Linked DNA regions of Homo sapiens: region 2 is linked to region 1. Evidence: fine-mapped expression QTL. A gene starts in region 1. The other region holds a variant in brackets. All regions are shown on one strand. Distances are between the middles of the regions. Region 1 holds the start of ZBED3-AS1 (ZBED3 antisense RNA 1). Region 2 overlaps ZBED3-AS1 (ZBED3 antisense RNA 1).

The links.
Region 2: its variant is fine-mapped to the expression of ZBED3-AS1 in thyroid (GTEx, PIP 0.96).

The regions. Positions count from the first base shown.
Region 1 is chr5:77,081,079-77,092,945 of GRCh38, forward strand. It overlaps ZBED3-AS1 (ZBED3 antisense RNA 1), which reads left to right and starts at 5,637. Exons shown (of 3, transcript NR_182763.1): 1 at 5,637-6,541. ZBED3 (zinc finger BED-type containing 3) reads right to left here and starts at 6,207. Exons shown (of 3, transcript NM_032367.4): 1 at 6,033-6,207. It also overlaps a transcript of PDE8B not described here. RefSeq lists enhancers at 5,865-6,466, 6,467-7,069, 7,070-7,670 and a silencer at 5,879-6,048.
Region 2 is chr5:77,118,222-77,130,088 of GRCh38, forward strand. It overlaps ZBED3-AS1 (ZBED3 antisense RNA 1), which reads left to right. Exons shown (of 3, transcript NR_182763.1): 2 at 99-300. LOC124901008 (a long non-coding RNA gene) reads right to left here. Exons shown (of 3, transcript XR_007058827.1): 2 at 11,599-11,662; 3 at 9,487-9,563. It also overlaps a transcript of PDE8B not described here. Among named protein-coding and RNA genes, the nearest start is that of ZBED3, 37 kb to the left of the region's middle. The variant G/A (reference allele first, on the strand shown) is at 5,616.

The DNA.
Region 1 (11,867 bases):
CGAGAAATATGAGTAGGCAAATGACCTAACAGCTCCACTGGCCAGGAAATTTATGAAAAGGTGCACAACATCACTTATATTCAGGGAAATGCTATTAAAGTAGCAATAAGGTATCGTTTTACATCCATCACACCAAGAAACATTAAGAGGTCTAACAGCCAAAGTTACAAGGGAGGTAGAGAAAAGGCACACTCCTCAATTACTAGTGAAGATGGGATGGATTTTAGGAAAGCATTCTGGCCATTTCTTTTCTTTCTTTCTTTTTTTTTTTTTTTTAATTTTTTTTAAGACAGGGTCTTGCTCTGTCACCCAGGCTGGAGTGCAGTGGCACAATCATGGCTCACTGCAACCTCTGCTTCCCAGGCTCAAGAAGTGATCCTCCCACCTCAGCCTCCAAAGTAGCTGGGACTACAGGTGCATGCCACCATGCTTGGCTAATTTTTGTATTTTTTGTAGAGACAGGGTCTCTGTTGCCCAGGCTGGTCTTCCTTGAACACCTGGGCTCAAGTGATACACCTGCCTCGGCCTCCCAAAGTGCTGGGATTACAGTCGTGAGCATACCCAATGAGAATGCATGTCATTAATTCTGTGGTTAGCTAATAAGAAGAAAATGAAAAGTAAGAGATCCCTCAATTTTTCCTTGAACATTTTTTAAAACTAACACAAAGGTGCCAATGAATTTGAGTATTTTGCTTACATCCATCCACTCCATCCAACTCTCATTCAAATGCTCATTGTGCACCTGCTAAGGTCAGGTGCGTGCTTTCTGCCAAGCATTCCAAGAGGAATGTCACATAGTCTCTGCCCTCAGGAAGCGTACCATCTGGTGGGGAAAGAGATGCTTCCAACAATTCTGATACCTGTGTGATAGGGCCAGCTGCAATTTCTATATTAATTAAAAATAGAGGCTGGGCTCGGTGGCTCACGCCTGTAATCCCAACACTTTGGGAGTTCCAAGCAGGTGGATCACCTGAGGTCAGGAGTTCGAGACCAGCTTGGCCAACATGGTGAAACCCTGTCTCTACTAAAAATACAAAAATTAGCTGGGCATGGTGGCGGGTGCCTATAATCCCAGCTACTTGGGAGGCTGAGGCAGGAGAATGGCTTGATCCTGGGAGGTGGAGATTGCAGTGAGCCGAGATAGCACCATTGCATTCCAGCCTGGGTGACAACAGCGAAATGCTGTATTGAAAAAAAAAAAAAAAAGATAACCTGAGATTCTACTCCTGGGGATCTCTTCTATAGAACTATCAGCACCAATAAACACAGTCTTGTATCAGGATGTTCACGTAGAATGACATCAGAATCTACATCAGAATCATGTAGAATGACAAGAAACTGGAAGCAAGGGAATGCCTACCACCAGGAAAATGGCTGAGTATATAACATATGTTCATACCAGGGAATATTATACAGCCATTAAAGAGGAAAAGGATGAAGTTCTGTTCAATGTCTTACAAGGATATCTGGAGGAACTGTTCAGGGAGAAAAGAGAGATGCAGAAGAGTGTATAATATGATCCCACTATTATTAAGTAATATACATATCTGTAGAGGCAATATATAGCTATAGATGAAGAAAAATAAGGAGATACTATGGTTGAGGCAATGGTAACTGATGTGAAAGGAGGGAGAAGGGGAAGAGGTAAACACAAAAGTAAAAGCAATGAGGTACTAAGAAAGCATGCATGTGATCACGTGTATACATTTAGGGAAAGTGTGTATATCACAGGATCTCTACATAAATAAAAAATAATTTTATAAAACAACCCTTGGGCCTGGGTGTGGTGGCTCACACCTGTAATCCCAGCCCTTTGGGAGGCCAAGGCAGGTAGATCACCTGAGGTCAGGAGTTCAAGACCAGCCTGGCCAACATGGTGAAACCCCGTCTCTACTAAAAATACAAAAAATTAGCTAGGCGTGGTGGTGGGTGCCTGTAGTCCCAGCTACTCGGGAGGCTGAGGCAGGAGAATCGCTTGAACCTGGGAGGCGGAGGTTGCAGTGAGCCGAGATTGCACGATTGTACTCCAGCCTGGGTAGTAAGAGCGAAACTCCATCTCAGAAAAACAAAAAACAAAAACAAAAAAGCAAAACAACCCTTGGCTCCTCAAGCATGTGAGCTCAGGCAGGGCCAGCCCAGCCTTAACTGTGGAGGCTGGTGGGACAGTCCCATGGGGAAGCCCACTGCTGCGCCGCTTGGAGGAGGAAACCCAGCATGTGAGGCTGCTCATTGTCACGTGGTTTGCTGTGCTCTGCAGAAGGAGATTCTGTGTTCACACCCAGGATGTCATGGAAGAGGAGCTCATCCCATTCATCTCCCTGGCACAGGGTAGACACTTGGGGGATGCTGCATTAAGTGAAGTGAACCTGACTCTGTTTCTTTAGCCCCAGCCCACCCGAGTCTCAATCTTCCCATCTGTCAAGAGAAATAATAAGATTATTTGCCTCTAAACAGGTGGCTGAGATCATAGATAGTGCAAATGATGTCACTGTTGGACTCTCCGGTGTTATATAAATTTAAGACATGAACAATAAAGAAACTACCGATATTTACTGCTCAGACATGCCCACGTTAAGATTTTAATGGCTAAAAGGCAGTTGTTTTTCCATCTGACATTATGTTATTCAACAGAGTAAGTAGTCTAAGTTGGAGGAATCCCCTTGGGAATTGACTACAAAGAGCAAATAAAAAAGAGTAACAGATCCAAGACCCTTACCCCTTAAATTTATTTTCACTTCCTAAATTGAACTTCATGCAAAATAGGTTATTTATCACTAGGGTAAAATAAGATAATGGGGAGGTTTAATTAGCCAAAGCCCTGTGATAACGCGTTTCTTCCTTACCAAATACCCAATGAGAATGCATATCATTAATTCTGTGGTTAGCTAATAAGAAAATGAAAAAAGCTCCCTTAATTTTTCCTTGAAAAAATTTTTAAACTAACACAAAGATGCCAATGAATGAGTATTTTGCTTACATCCATTCACTCCATCCAACTCTCATTCAAATGCTCATTGTGCACCTGCTAAGGTCAGGTGCGTGCTTTCTGCCAAGCATTCCAAGAGGAACGTCACATAGTCTTTGCCCTCAGGAAGCGTACGGTCTGGTTGGGAAAGAGATGCTTCCAACAATAATTCTGATACCTGTGTGATATGGTTTGGCTGTGTCCCCACCCAAATCTCATCCTGAATCCTACTCCCATAATTCCCACGTGTTGTGGGATGGAACTGGTGAGAGATAATTGAATCACGAGCGCGGTTTCTCCCATACTGTTCTTGTGCTAGTGAATAAATCTCACGAGATCTGATGGTTTTATAAACGAGAAGCCCTTTTCGCTTGACCCTCATTATAGCTCATGCCGCAGCCAGGTAAGAAGTGCCTTTCGCCTTCCGCCTTCCGCCATGACTGTTAGGCCTCCCTAGCCACGTGGAACTTTAAGTCCATTAAACGTCTTTCTTTTATAAATTGCCCAGTCTTGGGTATGTCTTTATCAGCAGCGCGAAAACAGATTACTAACACACTGTGGTAAAGGTGAAATCAGTGCTCACTCCTTCGGGTGAATTCCGTCACATAATCTCCACTGGGGAAGGGGTGGGCATGGGCAGCTCCTGGGAGCTGATGTCTTAGGGGCCCTAACACAAAAGTTCATGCAGTTCAGCATCCCTTCCCCTCCCATGCCCCACAGGGCACAAACGCATTGTTGTCCATCACCAAAACACATTACCCTTAGTACTCGACTCTAATGAAGTTCCAGTTCCTCAGTTGTATAACGAGGCTTCCAAGCTCCTATTTTAAAAGAAAGTTTCTTGAAGCTAAATAAAAGCACTGCTAACATGAAATTAACAGTGGAAATTTTTGAGTGTAATTTCAGGGTGAAAAAAACTGAAAAGACAAATGTAGATTTTAGATATTTCAAGGAAGGAGAGAGAGTAGTGTTGCTGGTACCATGCCTCTGCACTTGCTATAGCTGAGTTTCATTTGAGTATCCATTATTTGGAAGGAGTTCTTAAATCTAAGCCTGTGGAAGACAATAAATTCACATTAATTATCTCTCCATTTGACTCAATTTCTGAAGAAGTTCTATCCTTCTGATGAACTATCAGATTAAATCCCAGATTCCTCAGTATGATGTCCCTGAATACCAATATAAAGAATAAAGGAAGAGATCAAAACCTGGATGAATAATCTGTATAAACATGGGCATATACACAAGGTATGACTATAATATTGAGACTCATCCTATAAAGCACCTACAAAAGTTGATTGTATTATTTTATACTTATGCTTGTGCACATAAAAAATATTTGGCAGGCTAAAGGCCAAAGAACCAGGCACTGTTCTCAAAAGGACATAGCAGATTAACTACACCTCTATTTGTCCTTCTATACTCAAGGCTACTTACTGTAGTTGGGTTGACCAGGCAGAGTTTAAATCAATATATGTTGGTTGAGCCTGGATCTTAGATGAGAAATTCACACTAACGTGAAATTCACACAGACATATGTGGAAACACTAAAAACATTTTCTTTTACTTCATCCACCAGTGACTTTAATGAAAGCAGAGCATAATAATTAATACAAGTAATTAGAGTTGACAACTGAAGTGTCAAGAAAACCACAGTTCATCTGTTATCCGTCCATCTCTGTTGAAATATTAGTTTACTGCCATATATTAATCTATTTATAAAGAGATCCAGACAATTAGAAAAATTAGTCTGGAATCACCAGGCTGAAGGCTTAGCTGAAGTTAAAAGACAAGTAAAAATGCCTCCAAACTGTAAAACCTGAGTTGGGGAATAAATGGTAAAATGTGTAAAAATTTAGAAAAAGGTTATATGTGGACTGTAAAAAATACACTGGACTCACAGGTAATTAAGGGGTGAATCAGAGTTGTTTCCTAAATGGCATAAGCCAAACTCTTAGATATTTCTACCATTAGCTAAAAGGCAGAGAAGCACTCTCTCTCTCTATTAATGCACTTTTAAAAATGAAAATTGTGAAGTGTTCTGCCCTTAAAGTGGACCTTTATTTCAGGTCTGCATTACTTTGCTTAATAGATATGGTCCTAAAGATTAAGGTGGTGATCCATTTTATCTTGTAAAAATGCATAATTTAATCTGAGTTATAGGAATTTAAAGCTGCCCTACTTTGAAGGCCTTTGTGACTCAAAGATTTTTTTAATTTAATTTTTAAATTGAGAATTACCTGGCTTGGGCTTTTGGTCTTTTTATAATACGTATTGCTGTCTACTTTTTTTTTTATTCTTGGCTGCCTCAAGCTATTCTTGCCTCCAAAAGGTGTCAGCATATGAATAAAAACAGCAGAAAATAATTACCCTAATTAGGTCAATGTATTAAGCTGTTTCTACAACTGTTTCTCTTAAACACCTTATCTTTGTAGTCTTGGCTCATTAGAAATTCGACTAGTGGTAAGTATTTATTTTTTTCCTTCAAGGGGGTTTTTGCTTTGCTAAGCCTCGGGCATTTGGTTCGTGCAAGAAATCACAGAAACTGCTCCAGCGGACTCCGAAAGGAGCGGAAAATTCTTTTGTTTGGGGGCCATGAGGGGTGGGGGAGGGGTGGGGATTCTGGTGTAAGCTTTTGGCTTGCATTCGCTTTCTCCCTCCGAAAGTGGGCGACATCAAGCAAGTCCCAGTTACAGAAAGAACCCACTGCAGGGCGTCCAGTCACTTGCCCAGTGAAAAGACTGTAATCAGACAACTTTAATAAAGGGAGAGCAGGAGAGTGGTGACGAATTTCCACATTCCGAACAAGCTTGTCGAAAGAGGAGTGCAGGGAAGGAGCAAGAATGAGGCACTGGAAGACGGTGAGCGGGGCCTTGCCACAGAATCCCGGGCCCACCTGCTTTCTCACAGTCGCGACAGCCGGCCCGGAGAAGGGCAGCCCAGCGAAGGGCACGCCCCGCGCGGGTGCCAGGGAGGCCGGCAGGGGCGTCCGCGGTCGCTGCTCACCTGCGCTCCCCGCTGCCCGGCCCAGCCCGCCTCGCCACCGAGTCTGGAAGCCCACACTCACCCCTTTACCCGGGAAACGCGGCCGGAGCCGGCGGCGGGTCGGGAGTCCGAGATGGTAGATCCCCCTCCAGGCGCCTCGCTGACATTTTGTCCCGGACGGAAAACCTCCGCGCGTGCCCCTTAAAGACACAGCGCTGCATTCACACGTCTGCGGGGAAAGGGGGGCCGTCACGTGTGGCCTTCGCCCGAAAGCGGTAGGGGAGTCGCTCTGAAACCGCCAAGGATCGCGAGCGACAGATTTGTGTTGGCCAGGGTTTTAAGATGACGCAATAGCTGAGTGTGGTTGAAATGTAACTATTGTTTTACAACTTTGCATTAACCTTCCAAGACCTGAATTCCCGGGCCTGAGTCTCAGAGCGCGGTTTGCATCTTTGCAGGCTGTAGGCGCATGATGTCACAAGTTATTGGAAGAAATCCCTCCAACCTAGGTTGGGACAGATGAAGGCGGCGCTTATTGGTGTTCACCAAAACACCAGCATGGTGTACCAGCTTTGGCTAGATGATGCTCAGGTAACGAACAACCCCTGCAACTCAGTGGCTTAAAGGTCCATTTCTCAAGCGAATTACTGTGGCTGCAGGGAGCTTTGGCAGTACTCCACCAGTTTTCTTCACTCCAGGCTGAAAGGTCAACTTTTCTGGGCCATGCTCCCTGCTGGGCTGGTAAACCAACTTTGAGGGAGAAGGGGGAAGTCCAGATATGTAGTGTTTGCTATTTCTATGATGTAAATGCTCCCACAATGGCCGATTTCAAGCTACAAACAGTCCAACAAGTGGCTTGCCAAGTTCCTGGAAATTTAACAATTAGCTCCTGTACATGACTGGCACAAGCTGCTTTCCAAACTCACATTCCGCATGCCTCAGTTCTGCTCACTTTCTATTGGTCAAAACTTGCTGTCAGTGGGTGGGGAAGTGTACCCCTCTCTTAAGGAAGCCTTGCAAGTCTTGTGACAATGAAACAGGAGAGTTCCCTGATTTCCTCCCGGCCCCCGCCCTCCCACAGCCCTTTGCAGGACGTGCAACAGGGTTGTGGCTCGTGTGTTCGGTCTCTGCCTGCTGAAACCCCTTATGGGAGGTGGAGCATGCAGACGGACGGGTGCAGGAGCCAGGGTGCAAAAGCTGGGGCGCTGGGCTTCCAGCCCCACGGCAGTGTCCAGGGGCAGGATCCCGTGATTCCCGGAGCCCAAATGGGCGTGTGTTACAGTGTGCTCTTTTAGCCTTACCATCAGCTGACGGCTTAAGTGTTAACCAGCTCAATAGACCCTCTGCCTTTTTGCAAGCGCAGAGGGTCAGTGTGACAGTTTCTGTATCTCAGCTCTTGTCTCACCTCCCAGAAGAATCAGGTCACACATGGACTTGAAGGATGGTGAGTGCCGGGGTGGGGGCGGGGGTAGAGGAGTTGGGGGAAGGTTGGGGGTGTTTATTAGGTGGTAGGGGTGGCACTCAGTAGGATGGATGGGGAGCTGGAAAGGGGGTGGAGTAGGGAGATGATCTTCCCCTGGAGTTTAACCGTCCAGCGGTGGATTCTCTAACTGTCCCCAGCTGAACTCCACCCAATATTCCTTCTCTTTTCTCTTTATCTGCGGCTCTTCTGCTCTTCTGCTCTTCTGTTCATCTGCTCATCTTTTGCTGCTGGAGCCTGGTGTCTGGAGTTTATACGGGTACAGGATAGGGGGTCATGGAGGGCCAAAAGGTAACTTTTGGGCACAAGAACGGGAATGCCTCTCTTCATTTAGGGCCATGGGTTTCCAGGCTTGAGGGTGGGGCCTTTGCCAGGGAACGGCCTTATTCTACCCAGTAGTTCCCTGTCTACTGTCCCTATCAACAATAAGTGAGCTGAATAATATCCTTAAAAGAAGAACAAGAAATAACTGGGTACAATAATACAATCCACCATTCCAATAATGGTTTTGGAGGAAGAAACTGGTTGGGTATCTTCAAAGGCAGAGGTCCCCAACCCCGGGCCATGAACCAGTACCCTTTGTACCCTGTTAGGAACCTGGTGGCACAGCAGGAGTTGAGTAAGGGGCAAGCAAATGAGGGAAGCTTCATCTGTATTTACATCCGCTCCCCATGACTAGCATTGCCGCCTGAGCTCCACCTCCTGTCACATCAGCTGGGGCATTAGATTCTCATAGGAGCACAATTGTGAACTGTGCACATTCAAGGGATCTAGGTTGTGTGCCCCTTGTGAGAATCTAATGCCTGATGATCTGTCACTATCTCCTGTCACCCCCAGACGGGCCTGTCTAATTGCAGGAAAACAAACTCAGGGCTCCCACTGATTCTACATTACGGTGAGTTGTATAACTATTTCATTATATATTACAATGTAATAATAATAGAAATAAAGTGCACAATAAATATGATGCGCTTGAATCATCCCAAACCTATTCCCCACCCCTGTCCATGGAAAAATTGTCTTCCACGAAACCAGTCCCTGGTGCCAAAAAGGTTGGGGATTGCTGTTCAAAGGGATAATTTTGCAATGTGAAGGCCAACTATTAGGTTACTACTTTTCTTCTGGCCCAAAGGACACTTACAGCTACGGACATCTGATAAAAAGAAAAGTAATGAGTACACTGTTGGTGGGAATGTATAGCCATACACCCATTATGGAAAACAGTATGGCGGCTTCTCAGAAAACTAAAGATAGAACTATCATATGATCCATCAATTCCACCACTGGTTATTTATCCAAAGGAAAGGAAATCAGTGTATCAAAGGGATTCTTGTACTCCCGTTTATAGCCACACTATTCACAATAGCCAAGATACAAAATCAACCAAAGTCTATCAACAGATCAGTAAAGAAAATATGATATATATACACAATGGAACACTATTCAGCCATAAAAAAGAATGAAATCCTGTCATTTGCAGCAACATGCAGGGAACTAGAGGCCATCTTGTTAAGTGAAATAAATCAGACACAGAAAGGCAAAAATCACATGTTCACACTCATATGTGGGAGCTAAAGAAGTTGATCTCATGGAGGTAGAGAGCAGAAGGGTGTAGAGGTGGGGGAGTGAAGACAGGTTGGTGAATGGGTACAAGCAAACAGATAAGATGGAATAAGTTCTAGTTTTTGATAACACGGAAGGGTGACTGTATTTCCAAAGAGAAGATTTTTTTCTTTTTTTCTTTTTTTTGAGACGGAGTCTTGCTCTGTCGCCCAGGCTGGAGTGCAGTGGCACGATCTCGGCTCACTGCAAGCTCCGCCTCCCGGGAGCTTGTGTGGAGCTAGTGTTTTTATTCATGCCATTCTCCTGCCTCAGCCTTCTGAGTAGCTGGGACTAAGGGAACTACAGGCGCCCGCCACCACACCCATTAATTTTTTTGTATTTTTAGTAGAGACGGGGTTTCACTGTGTTAGCCAGTATGGTCTCGATCTCCTGACCTTGTGATACACCCGCCTCAACCTCCCAAAGTGCTGGGATTACAGGCGTGAGCCACCGCACCCAGCCGAAGAGAAGATTTTTTTTCTATGAGTTTGACTTTAATTTCTAAGATTCCACATATATATGAGATCATGCAGTATTTGTCTTTCTGTGTCTGGCTTATTTCACTTAGCATACTCTTCTCTAAGACATCCATGTTGTTGCAAATGGTAAGAGTTCCTTTTTCTTTAAGGCTGAATAATATCCGTGTGTGTGTGTGTGTGTATGTGTGAATACACACCACAGTTTCTTTTTTTATTCATCAGTTGATGGACACTTAGATTGTTACCATATCTTTTGGCTTCTGTAAATAATGCTGCAATTAACATGGGACTGCAGATACTTCTTGGAGATAGTATTTTTATTTCTTTTGGAAATATACCCAATAGTAGTATTAGTGGATCATATGGTAGTTCTATTTTTAATTTTTTGAGGAACCTCTCTATACTATTTTCAATAATGGCTGCACCAATTGACATTTCCACCAATAGGGTACAAGCATCCCCATTTCTCTAATCTTCACCAATACTTGCTGTCTTTTGACTTTTTGATAATAGTCATCCTAACAGGTGTGAGGTGATGTCATTTTGACTTGCAATTTCTCTGCTAATTAGTGATGTCGAGTAGAAGAGAAGATTTAAAATGTTCCCAATACAAAGAAATGATAAATGTTCAAGGTGATGGGTATCCTGATAACCCTGACGATCATTACACATTGTATGCATGCATCAAAATATCCCATGCACCCCATAAATACATACAAATATTTCGTATCAATAAAAAAATGAAAAAGAAAAGTAACTAGTATAAATGGCCAGGTGCAGTGGCTCACGCCTGTAATCCCAGCATTTTGGGAGGCCCAGGCGAGTGGATCACCTGAGGTCAGGAGTTCAAGACCAGCCTGACCAACATGGTGAAACCCCATCTCTACTAGAAAAATACAAAAATTAGCCGGGTGTGGTGGTGGGTCCCTATAAGCCCAGCTACCTGGGAGCCTGAGGCGGGAGAATTGCTTGAACCCGGAGGCGGAGGTTGCAGCGAGCCGAGATCGTGCAACTGCACTCCAGACTGGGCGACAGAGTGAGACTCTGTCTGAAAAATAATAATAAAATAAAATAAATAAATAAAAAAGAAAAGTAACTAGTATAAACAAATCAGGTTAAAGTCATCTCTAATTCATGTTTCAATATTTGAACAATTTTTTACAGTTTATTGTATCTGGTAATTCTTTTAAGAAGAAGCTTTATTGCTTTGAGTGTCTAAAAGAATCCATTTAACTTTAAACTGACCACGTAATGAGATACATGATATTTTCATTAGTTCATAGAGGAGTTTTTAGTAAGTGCTGGTTATGGGCAAAGCACCATCTTAAGCCTAAGCAGGAGTCTGGAGACTATTCCTGCCCTCAAGAGGATTACACTCCAGTATGACAGTAAGACATATGCAACTCTAAGAAGAAAGTGAAAAATTATATAAGAGGAAATATTCAAGTGCCATAATAAATTGAGAATGGCTACATATTTTTGAAAGTGGCAGCATTTAATCAAGGCTTGAAAAAGAGTAGGATTTGGATTCCTGGCATTATATGTTTATTATCTTAACAAGATGTATTTTTTATTTATTTTTAAAGTCAGATAAAAGGAGCTTAGCTTTTTTGTGAGTCAGTGCTTAAATTTTCTTAAATTTTGTGAGTCAATGCTTAAATTTAATAATTTTCTAAATTCTTAAATTTTCGTGTAATCAGAAATCTCTTTCTTGTGTTAAATTTAAAATCAAACTACAAAATATGTCTCAAATATCTAATAACTTTTCTTCTTTGCCCTACATCCTTTGTTCAAGTTTCAGCAAAAAAAAACAACCTTCAGTTCTTGCTTTCTTGGTAGTGGCAGTTCCCCTAACTTTCATCACGCGTGTAACCATAAATAAATAACATTTAATTTTCACAGGAGGATCTCATTTCTGTACCCTGCCCTGGAAGTTGGCAAAAAGTAAGGACCTGCATTTCATTGGAAATACAGAATATTTACTCTCCCTATTCTCTTCAGAAATTACAGCCTTGAAATCTGCTATCAGAAACCCACTTTGAGGCTGGGCCCAGTGCAGCGGCTCACACCTGTAATCCCAGCACTTTGGGAGGCCAAAGCAGGCGGATTACTTGAGCCCAGGAGTTCGAGACCAGCCTGGACGACATGGTGAAATCACCTCTTAAAAAAAAAATACAAAAATCACCCCAGCATGGTAGCACACATCTGTGGTCCCAGCTACTCAGGAGGCTGAGGTGGGAGCATTGTTTGAGCTCAGGAGATGAAGGCTGCAGTGAGACCTGATCACATACACCAATACACTCCAGCCTGGGTGATGGAGTGAGATCCTGTCTCAAAACCAAACCCAGTTTGAGAA
Region 2 (11,867 bases), 37 kb after region 1:
CCGGTGTGAGCCACCACGCCTAGCCTAAGGTTTTGGTTTTGTATCTAAGTTTAGAAGCATCTAAATTTTAAGTTTTATTGTTGTTGTTGTTGTTGCAGGAAAACACAGATCCTGGTGCCGAACATGAGGACAGGGCAGGCCGAAGGAGAAAGTGGAAGGAGGGGAGCTTCTCTCTCAGCCTCATCCTTCTGGGCCTGGATGCTGGAGAGTCATGAGGTGCTTCAGAGTACTCTGGGTGAGGAGGGAAAGATGGTGCCCACCACATGGAGGCCAGCCTAGGTCTTGTATGAAACCTGTGAGGTATGAAGGAGTAATTTTTCTTTCTAAGCCATTTCTCTGCTTATTTCTCAGATCAGTGCCCTTTATGTTTGAACTTGGTGTGAATGACCATCTTAGTGATTCTTACTGCAATGACAATAGGGAGTTAAATGACATAAGTTTCTTTTTCATGGGAAAGGATATAAAAATGTATCTGCATGTGGTCAGTGTAGAATATTCCCAGCCAGAGGTGCAGTTTTCTGGATCCCTCCCACAGACATTGTGTGGAAGCACACCTATTAACCGATAAGGGGCGAAATTTCACCAGAATAGAGAAGCATCCTCTTTGCCCTTTTCACAGGGGTGGGGATGAGGTTAGGGGTGGGGTTATACCTTCTTTGCTCACCCAGCTGCTTCTATATATCTTAGCCTGGATATGCCTAAACTTAAGCCAAAACAAAAACTCATAGACAGGTAGTTTATTTGCAAAATGATACTAGGGATCAGGAGTAAGGAATGAGAGTAAAGCAGGGGAGGAAGAAAAGCCACTGCAAGCATGCACTGTCAACAGAGGAAGGACCAACAAGCACATGAAAGGTCTCAGTGTTACTAGTCACCAGAATTCAAATGAAAACCACCACGAGATACCTACTAGATGCCTATTAGAATGGCTACATTAAAAAGACTGCAGCAACAAATGTTGGTGAGGGTGTGGAACAGTCAGAGCTCTCATCAATTGTTGGTAGGGGTGTAAATTGGTACAACTTTGGAAAGGTCTGGCACTTTCTTAAAAAACTAAACACACACTTTCTATGACCCAGCAATTTCATTCCTAGATATTTGCCCAGCAGAAATGAAAATATCTGTATATAAACAGACTTGTTTAAGAATGTTCATGGCCTGGCGTGGTGGCTCACGCCTGTAATCCCAGCACTTTGGGAGGCTGAGGCGGGCGGATCACGAGGTCAGGAGATCGAGACCATCCTGGCTAACATGGTGAAACCCCGTCTCTACTAAAAATACAAAAAATTAGCTGGGCGTGGTGCAGGCGCCTGTAGTCTCAGCTACTTGGGAGGCTGAGGCAGGAGAATGGCATGAACCCAGGAGGTGGAGCTTGCAGTGAGCAGAGATCGCGCCACTGCACTCCAGCCTGGGTGACAGAGCAAGACTCTGTCTCAAAAAAAAAAAAAAAAAAAAAGAGTGTTCACAGCAAGCAGCATTATGTGTTATAGTCAGAAACTGGAAACAGGCCAGGCACGGTGGCTCATGCCTGTAATCCTAGCACTTTGAGAACCTCAGATAGGAAGATCGCTTGAGGCCAGGAGTTCGAGACCAGCCTGGGGAACATAGCAAGACCCTGTTTTCACAAAAAATAAAGACATTAGCCAGGCATGGTGGCACACATCTGTAGTCCTAGCTACTTAGGAGGCTGAGGTGGGAGGATCACTTGAGCCCAGGAGTTCAAGGCTGCAGTGACCTATAATCACCCACCCTGGGTGATACAGTAAGACCTTGTTTCTAAACAAAACAAAACAAAACAAAAACTGGAAACAGCCCATTAACAGAAGAATGGATAAAAAAACTGTGGTATGTTCATGCAATGGAATATTGCCCAGCCATAAAAAGGAATAGAGTATTGATATAATAATATGGGTAAATATTAAAGCATGCTGGGTGAAAAAAGCCTTACGCAAAATAATATGGTATTTTCCTATTTAAAGTTCTAGAATAGGCAGAACTAATCTGCAATGAAGAAAAATCAAAATAGTGATCTGTGCAGATGTGGGCGTACAAGTAGGAGTTGACAGAGAGCAGGCATGAGGGAATGTTCCTCTACATCTTCAAAGGAGTTTGGGTTACACATGTCAATGTACTTTTCAAAACTTACTGAATGGTACACTTACAAGTGTTCATTTTATTGAATATAAATTTTGCCTTAAAAGAAAGACATCATAAATGAATACTGAAGTTTAGTTAATGATATGCATGCTGAAGTGTTAAGGGTGAATTATACTGTTATCTGAAAAGTACTTTGAAATGCATTAAAAATAAAATAGATTAGTAGATGGATAGAATAATAGATAAATGGATATACGTATGATAAAAGAAATAGAATAAGATATTAGTTGTACAATCTAGATAGGGATATATGGGTTTTGACTGTAGCATTCTTTCAACTTCTCTGTATGCTTGAACATTTTTATAATAAAAAGTGAGGTAAAAACAAAAACACATGATCACATTGGCTACAACTGAGCAACTGTTGTACAAGCCTGTCAGGACCGTTGAGGAGTTTTCTGAAATCTACTTCAGAACCTAACACCTGGGTGGTGGAAGGGAAAACATTTATCTGTTGGCTTCTTTCTCCTTGTGTCAGTGCTTAAAGCCCTCTTGCAGGTGCCCTGCACCTTAGAGAATTCCCAGGGTAGGGAGCTAGAGTACACAGCATGCATGGGCTGATGTGGCATGCTTCAGATTGCACCTGTGTGTAGCTGGTCAAAGCCTATGCAGAACCAAGAGTCAAACAAGAGGATGGAAAGTGCTCCAGAAGTATTGTGTTAGTTACTCATTGCTGCTTAACAGATTACCCTCCAAACTTAGTGTCTTACAACAAACGAACAGCTATTCTCCACAATTCCTGTGGGTCAGGAATTCAGGAGTCACTTAGCTGGCTGGTTCTAGCTCAGGGTCTGCCATGACATTATATTCAATATTTCAAGCCAAGGCTGCATTCATCGGAAAACTTGATTGGGGCTGAAAGATCCACTTGCAAGGTGGTGCATTACATGGCCCTTGGCAGGAGGCTCCAGTGTCCCTGCCACATGGGCCTCACAGTAGGTCTGCTGAGTGTCCTTGTAACATGGCACATGGCATCCCCCAGAGTGAGTGATTATGGGGGGAGGAAAAAGTCACAATGTCTTTTATGACCTGGTTTTGGAAATCACCCGCTGTCACTTCCACCACCTTTTATTATTTAGAAGTGAATCACTAGGTACATTTCACACTCAAGGAGAAGGGAATTAGGCTTCCTTTTTTTTTTTTTTTTGAGACAGAGTCTCGCTCTGTTGCCCAGGCTGGAGTGCAGTGGCACAATCTTGGCTCACTGCAACCTCCGCCTCCCGGGTTCAAGCAATTCTTCTGCCTCAGCCTCCCGAGTAGCTGGGACTACAGGCGTGCGCCACCACGCCCAGCTAATTTTTGTATTTTTAGTAGAGACGGGGTTTCACCATATTGGCCAGGCTGGTCTTGAACTCCTGACCTCGTGATCCACCCGCCTCGGCCTCCCAGAATGCTAGGATTACAGGTGTGAGCTACCGCTTCCAGCCTAGCTTCACTTTTTGAAGGAAGGAACATCAAAGAAGTTGAGAACATGTTTGGAAACCACAACAGATTTCCATTACGTTTCACCTTTGCACTTCTTAGGACTTTTGTGCTCTGCATTAAGTCCAGTCTGCCCAGAGTCTTCTTCTAGAGAGTGGCTAGCTCCAAATCCTACAAACACTAAATACAGGAAGGTGAATAGAACAAGTTACATTCCCTGCTGATGCAACAGGTTCCAAATCCATAAATAGTACTTGTCATCTCCATTTTCCACCATTTGCTCTAGATTTCCCTTAACCTTAGCCAATTATTTGGCTGATGTAGGTTGCTTTCCTGATGGCTGACTCAAAACTTTACCTCTGAGGGGTCTGAGCCTTTAGTTGACCTTGTAAAGTCATGATCACTGCGATTGCCCATCCACCATCACCAGTCATGGAATCATCAATAGATGTCCCTGTGAATCTTCTATGTCCTAGACACAGTCCTTCCTGCACACATAATGTAACAGCAGCCTTAGCTCTTCATGGTAATCAGAGTCGATTACTCTTTTCAGCATAGGAACACCTCTTTTTTCTTGCTGGTCTACTGCCATGAGGAACCCAAAATTCAAAAACAATAATCACACTTTAAGGTGAATGGAAGCGCTATCATTTCTGCTAGTGCGTACATTCACCCACCTGAAAGTGGGACAATTAATTCAGCAGAACCTAGGCTCATTTGATGGGAAATGCACAACACTTTTAAGTGGATCATGAGAAGTGATGGTGAGGGGGGCAATCCTACTTCTACCTCATGTTTCCTGGACCAATGTTGCTAGACACTGGGAACATAACACCATGTATCAGCTATTGTTTTAGCACATATATACAATATTTTGGAGGACAGTGTCATTACCAACAGGTCGTTCTACCTGAGCCTGAGCTGACACTAAAAATCCTTTTCAAAAACTTCTGCTTTCAATCATGAAGGAGTAAGCCAGCCTGCAATTACATTTTGAAAGTAAGCAACTAGAAAACTAAACAAAATGTAGGAAAAAAACTATTTTAAGACATTGGGTAAGAGTCCAACGAGATTGTGATCCCCATGAAAAGGAAACGAAAGGGGCAAAATACACCCTGGTGTAGGCTTTCTGCCTGCAGGTAGCTCCAAGATTGTGATTCAGGGAGATGAAATTATACAAAGTGTTGTCATTGAATTGAACAGAGATTATAGTTCAAGAAGACCAAGGTAGCTATGATTTATAAGGCAGAGCACCTGTCTAAGTCCATTTTCTGTTGTTATAACCAAATACCTGAGACTACTTAGTTTATCATGAAGAGAAATCTATTTCTCACAGTTCTGAAGGCTGAAAGTCCAAGGTTGAGGGGGTGCATCTGGAGGGCCTTCCTATTGGTAGGCAATCTCTGCAGAGTCCCGAGGTGGTGTAGGGCATAGAGAAGGAGCTAAGCATGCTAGCTTAGCTCCTCACGAAGCCACTCATGTCCCACACTCGTGACTTTATCTCATTCTAATGACATCCAAAGGTGCCGCCTCTCAAATACTATAGTTGAATTCCTCCCCCACCGCCCCCCGCTTAATATTGTTACAGTGGGGATTAAGTTTCAACATGAGTTTCAGAGGGGACAAACACTCAAACCATAGCATTACTTGAGAGGAGAGCTCTCAAGAAATCTTTGGCTGGGTGCAGTGGCTCACACCTGTAATCCCAGCACTTTGGGAGGCTGAGGTGGGTAGATCGCTTGAGCCCAGGAATTTGAGACCAGCCTGGGTAACATGGCGACATCCTGTCTCTACAAAAAATACAAAAAATTAGCTGGGTGTGGTGGTGCACACCTGTGGTCCCAGCTACTTGGGAGGTTGAGGGGGAGGATCCCCTGAGCCTGGGGAGGCAGAGGTTGCAGTGAACCATGATGGTGCCACTGCACTCCAGCCTGGGCAACGGTGAGACTCTTGATTCTTTGCCTGAACACCAAACTAGTCAGGAATAGGATGAAATCCCATAGGACTGGACAAGAACAACTTTCAAGGAAAGAATA[G/A]TTCTGTGTAAGCTGTGAGACAAATAACCAATAACCAGAGTTCACACAGAGCTGGGAATCATTTGAGTTCCCTCTAGTCAGAGTAAACAGACCTTGGTGAATACACACGACATTCAGTAAAAATCCTGGAAAGGCAACAGTTTGAAGTGGGGCTAAATTATTTCTCAAATAAATGCTACTCTAGAACACGCTAAAAGAGCCTAGAACATACCTCAAAAGGATCAAACTAATCTGCAAGTAAAAGTCCAACAGAAAAGATTCAACACTCTTCAAAGAAATACAGAATTTCAGCACCCAACAATGTAAACTTTACAATATCTAGAATCTAATCTGAAATTAATAGACATATGAAGAAAAAGAAAATATGAAGAACAGTCAAGAGAAAAATTGGTCACAAGACTCAGACCCAGAAACAACAGAGACTATGGAATTATCAGACAAGAAGGTTAATATAGCTATTGGAAATATGTTGGCTAGGCCTGGTGGTTCACACCTGTAATACCAGCTCTCTGGGAGGCTGAGGCGGGTGGATTGCTTGAGCCCAGGAGCTCAAGACCATCCTGGGCAATGTGAAAATCCATCTCTACACAAAATACAAAAAATTATTCATGTGTGGTGGTGCACACCTGTATCCCAGCTACTTGGGAGGCTATGATGGGAGGATCGCCTGAGCTGAGGAGGTTGAGGCTGTAGTGAGCTGAGATTGTGCCACTCACTCCAGCCTGGGTGACAGAGTGAGACACTGTCTCAAAAAAAAAAAAAGAAAGAAAGAAAGAAATATGTTTCTTATATAAAGAGATGAAAGGACGTGAAAGTTATAAGAAATAGAAGATTTATAAAGGACTAAACTCAAGCTTTTAGTGATAAAAATACAACATCCAAAATTGAAAATACACTGGATAGATATAATAGCAGATTAGACACTGCAGAAGAAAAGAACAGTGAACATAATGACACAGGAAAAGAAGCTACCCAAAGTGAAGCACAGAGAAAAGATGGAGAAACAGCACATCAGTGAGCTGGAGAACAATATCATGTGTGCATCTGAAGTAAAAGAAGGAAAGGAAAAAGGAGGGAGAAAAATGTTTGAAGAATTAATAGTAAAAGAAATTTCTAAATTCTTCACACCTGTTAGGATTTTCACGTTGTTTTGTTTCACTTTTGAGGAAAAAGAGACAGGGTCTTGCTCTGTCACCCAAGCTGGAATGCAGTGGCACTCATAGCTCACTGCAGCCTCAAACTCCTGGGCTGGCTTCAGTGATTCTTCCACCTCAGCCTCTGGGGTAGCTGGGACTACAGGCATGCACCGCCATGCCAGCTAAATTCTTTTATTTTAATTTTTTTTTGTAGGGATACATTCTTTCTATGTTGTCCAGGCTGGTCTCAAACTCCTGGCCTCAAATGATTCCCCCGCCTTGGCCTCCCAAAGTGCTTGGATTACCACGCCCCACTGTTTTCTTTAAAAAGGAAAATAACAGTTGTTGGCAAGAATGTAGAGAAATTGGAACTCTTGTGCATTGCTGGTGGGAATATAAAATTGTGCAGCTGCAATGGAAAGCAGTTTGGTGGTTCTTCAAAAAGTTAAACAGAGAATTACCATATGATTTAGCAATTCCACTCCTAAGTATATGCCCCCAAAGAATTAAAAGCAGAGACTCAAATAGATACTTGTACACCAACGTCCACGGAAGTGTTAATTTGCAAAAGCCAAAAGGCATAAACAATTCAAATGTCAAAACAGACGAATGGATGTATACACATACAATGGAATATTATTCATCTTTTTAAAGACAAGAAATTTGGGTATCTCCTACATCATCCTTTCAAGGATGAACCTTGAAAACATTATGCTAACTAAACTAACCACAAAAGGAAAAATATTGTATGATTCCATTAATATGAAGTACTTACAACAAACAAATTCATGGAGACAGAAAGTAAAATAGAGGTTTCCAGGGTCTGGGGGAATAGTAGATTGGGAAGTTATTGTTTAATGAGAACAGAGTTTCAGTTTAGGGTGATAAAAAAAATTCTGGAGATGGATGGTGGGAATGGTTGCATGACAGTGAGAATATACTTAGTGCCACTCAACTGTACACTTAAAATGGCAAATTTTATGTTCTGTATATTTTACCACAATAAAATTAAATCTCTTAAAAGTTAGTTACAGCCGGGCTCAGTGGCTCACGCCTGTAATCCTAGCACTTTGGGAGGCTGAGGTGGGCGGATCACGAGGTCAGGAGATCGAGACCATCCTGGCTAACACGGTGAAACCCCGTCTCTACTAAAACTACAAAAAATTAGCCAGGTGTGGTGGTGGGCACCTTTAGTCCCAGCTACTCAGGAGGCTGAGGCAGAAGAATAGCTTGAACTGGGAGGTGGAGGCTGCAGTGAACTGAGTTTGTGCCACTACATTCCAGCCTGGGCGACAGAGCAAGGCTCTTTCTCAAAAAAAAAAAAAAGTTAGTTACTACTGTTCAAGAATAAATTGTGCCTTATTTGCCAATATACGTCATTTGAGGAGGATGACAAAAATTGAAGAGCTTGATGGAATTCAGTTTTGAAAAGTGAGATCTATCTGTGTTTCCTACAAACTTTATTTTTTTTGAGACAGGGTCTCTTTCTGTCACCCAGGCTGGAGTGCAGTGGCACAATCACAGCTCATTGCAGCCTTAGTCTCCTGGGCTCAGGTGATTCTCCCACCTCAGCCTCCCGAGTAGCTGGGACTACAGGTGTGTGCCACCATGCCTGGCTCTTTTAAAATTTGTTGTCAGGGTCTCTCCATGTTACCTAGGTGGTATTGAACTCCTGAGCTCGAGCAATCCTATCTGCCTTGGCCTCCAAAAATGTTGGGATTACAGGCGTGAGCCACAGCACCCGGCCCTACAAACTTTTAAGAAGATAAATGCTTGTAGAAATTTAATTACATTTTGCTTCTATGAATTCCTGATGAAAACTTTCTGAAATCTGTCATAAATACATAATCAAAAGAAAAAATAAATATCTTTAATATTTTCACATCCCTGAGCTTTCTGACTCCTTCCTTAGTGCTATGGCAAGCTCCAGTCCAGGCAAGTTGCAGCTTCTGGACTTTATTTATTATAGGCCACTATTTTGTCCAAGCCTCAAGAAATCACTCTTGCAGTGTATTGCTACAGGTATCCTTGCCAGGACACTGAGTTTTCTGATCAAGGAAGGGTGCTCCCAGGTCAATAAATTCACCATTATCCAGCTTTCTATTCCACTCACCCACCCTAGTGCAACATCCTCAAGATCCACTTTCACAAGCTTATCCAGGTTCCTGCCTGTATACATTACCCAGGTGAATGGTTTGGCTCTGTGTCCCCACCCAAATCTCATCTCGAATTGTAATCCCCATGTGCTGAGGGTGGGGCCTGTAATCCCCATGTGTTGAGGGAGGGAGGTGACTGGATTATGGGGGAGGTTTCCCCCATGCTGTTCTCGTGATAATGAGTGGGTTCTCACGAGATCTGATGATTTTATAAGCATCCAGCATTTCCCCTGCTTACACTTCTCACTCCCGCCACCCTGTGAAGGTCTTTGCTTCCTCTTTGCCTTCCACCATGATTGTAAGTTTCCTGAGGCCTCTGCAGCTATGCAGAACTGTGAGTCAGTTAAACCTCTTTCTTTTATAAATTACCCAGTCTTAGGTATTTCTTTATAGCAGTGTGAGAACAGTCTAATACCCCAGGTCCTTCAGTTTCTTTAGTAAACTATTTCCTACTGCAGCAGGGATACATTTCCCCACCTGCTTGAGCCAAAACCTGACTCCAGTTATCATGGAGTCAGTTAATTGGAGATGGAAGGAGACCTTGAGGAAGACAGACATCACTTTGCAAAGCAAGATTCAGGTGAGGTATTTTCAGGGTCTCCTGGCAAGATGAGGCTGATGTCCCCAGCAAGGAGAAGAAGGCTGACTTTGCTCTCCTAGAGGATGAAAATTAATCTAGTGACTCAATATTCTCAGACTTGTCTATCCTATCCCAGCTCTTAAGATTTTAAGCTTTTCCTATCAGGGTTCTAACTTTGAAATAGGAGATCTGTGAAGGCTTGGCGTTCTGTCTCCTCTATGACTTTGTCAACTGTTGTCTTAATCTTCAAGACAGTATTCCCTGTGCCTGCAGGAGATCAAATTCTTTTAACCATTGCTCTATTTCACCGTGGGCTTGAGTTGATAGTTGTCTAACATGACCCTGTCATTTTCTTATTTTGAGACTTTCAAAGCAGTTAACAAAAGCCAGTGAATTCCCCATTCCTTTACAATTATAATTGCCTCCATATTGTCCAAGGACCATAGTTACCACTTGACCCAGAGCCTCTCCCTTCCACCTGTACCTCATCCCAATCCACCACAGGTGAGAACCTTAATTGTGTTGCTGCTGGATCTGCACTTACCACTCAAGCTGTGATGGGAATGATGAGAAAAACGTTCTTCTCTTACAGTGACCGTCCTGGCTACCTGCAAAGTATGCTTAGAATTCTAGATTCCTTTGAAGTCTGGGTAAAGATCTCCCAAGGGCTGGCTGATGGGGACATGGGGATTCTTAATCCTGTTCACCTACAACGTGCCATCCAAAGGGAACCTCAGAAGTAGTAATTGCCCACCTTTATGGGTTGTGCATGCATGACTGCCAAGCAGCTTTCCACAGGCATCACAGACTCTGGTGTCAGACAAGCCTTGGAGCAAAAGCTACAGATCCAGTGTCTGGGCTGAGGCAAGGTCAGGTTATGCCTGTGTGGAACTGCTTGCCTTCACCAGTGACTGGGGTAAGTGGCCAGGCCAAAAGGATGTGAAATGGTGCTCAAGAGTTCTGGTCCCCTGGAGGCCCTGACTGGAGCCAAGTGTCAGCACACGAAACATCATCAGCTCATTCTGGAGCATTTACTTTAACTCAAGTATTAATAAATAAATTGGAAGTCAATTCACAGATGCATCGGACCAGAACTAGGTCAAAGTCTATTTGCCTAATCAATGCCCTGGCTACCCTTTTGTCTGTGTGGTTGTACGGGGTTTGGTTTGAGTCTGAGGACCATGATCACAAGTCCATTTCTCAGTGGACTAAACAAGAAACCTGGCTAAAGATTCCCAGACTTATTAACGTCCTTCCCTTTACCCAGATATTAGCTTGATGACAATTTCATTCATCAACCTAGGTTTGAACATAGTTTTCAGTGTCCAAATTCTTTCTGGATAGTTTATTTCTCTGTTCAGTTATTAGGTCTGTAATCTTTTGTATGATCTGTGTCCACATAAAAAATTACCAACGTTTTCCCAACTAGTTTAGTAGTGAAAGTACCATCTAATTTAAAAAAAAATCTTCAGTGTGGGGGAAAAGGAGGACAGATGTGATTATTAGACTGTCATCATGGGTCTCTAGTTGTTTTAAAAAGTTATAGCTACCTGAGGATTTTTTCAAAAGATTTTATTATGAAAAATTTTAAACATCCACAAAGTATAAATAATAAAATAATAAATCCCCGTGTCCCCATCAGCCAGCCCTTGGGAGATCTTTACCGAGACTCCAAAGGGATCTAGAATTCTAAGCATACTTTGCAGGTAGCCAGGATGGTCACTGTAAGAGAATGGTTTTTCTCGTCATTCCTGTCACATATTGAATGAGTGATCACATTTCTACCTTAGAAATGGATTACTTCCCCTCTGGTGGGTTTGTTTGCTCAGGTTCCCTTTAACCAGAGGGTATCAGGGCCGGGGCCAGGCATGAGGCAAGATCTAGCTGTGCCCACCGGAGGGAGCAGTGTCCTCCTGTTTCACAGTAATTTGCTGTGGATTGGCCCTGATACTTGTCAAGAGTTTTATTTAGCTCTGTTCTTCTCTTTCTGTTGGAATATCATTCATTTTTCTTGGACTGTGGGATGCGGTCCATGACCTTCACACTAGCTCTGGCATTACTGTCTGTAGTGTTTCGCAGTAAAAGAATTGGCATAACGTCACCCACCCTACCTCTACACTGTTTGACGTGCACATTTCCATCAGTCTAGGCTGCTCACTGTTTTCCATCTCGGTTCTGGGAAGCCAGAAAAAAATTGGTTTGAAATTGAATTTTTAAAGTATGTTTTTCTAATGAAACTCCTAGATGGCCTTGATTGTGTTTCCAGATCTCCTCTCATCTCGATTCTGTTTTCACACAGAGATGCAGTTGTTTTTCACAGTCTGGAGCATAGAGAAAATGTGGACTGCACTCTATGCTGATCAGAACCTATATAGACCTC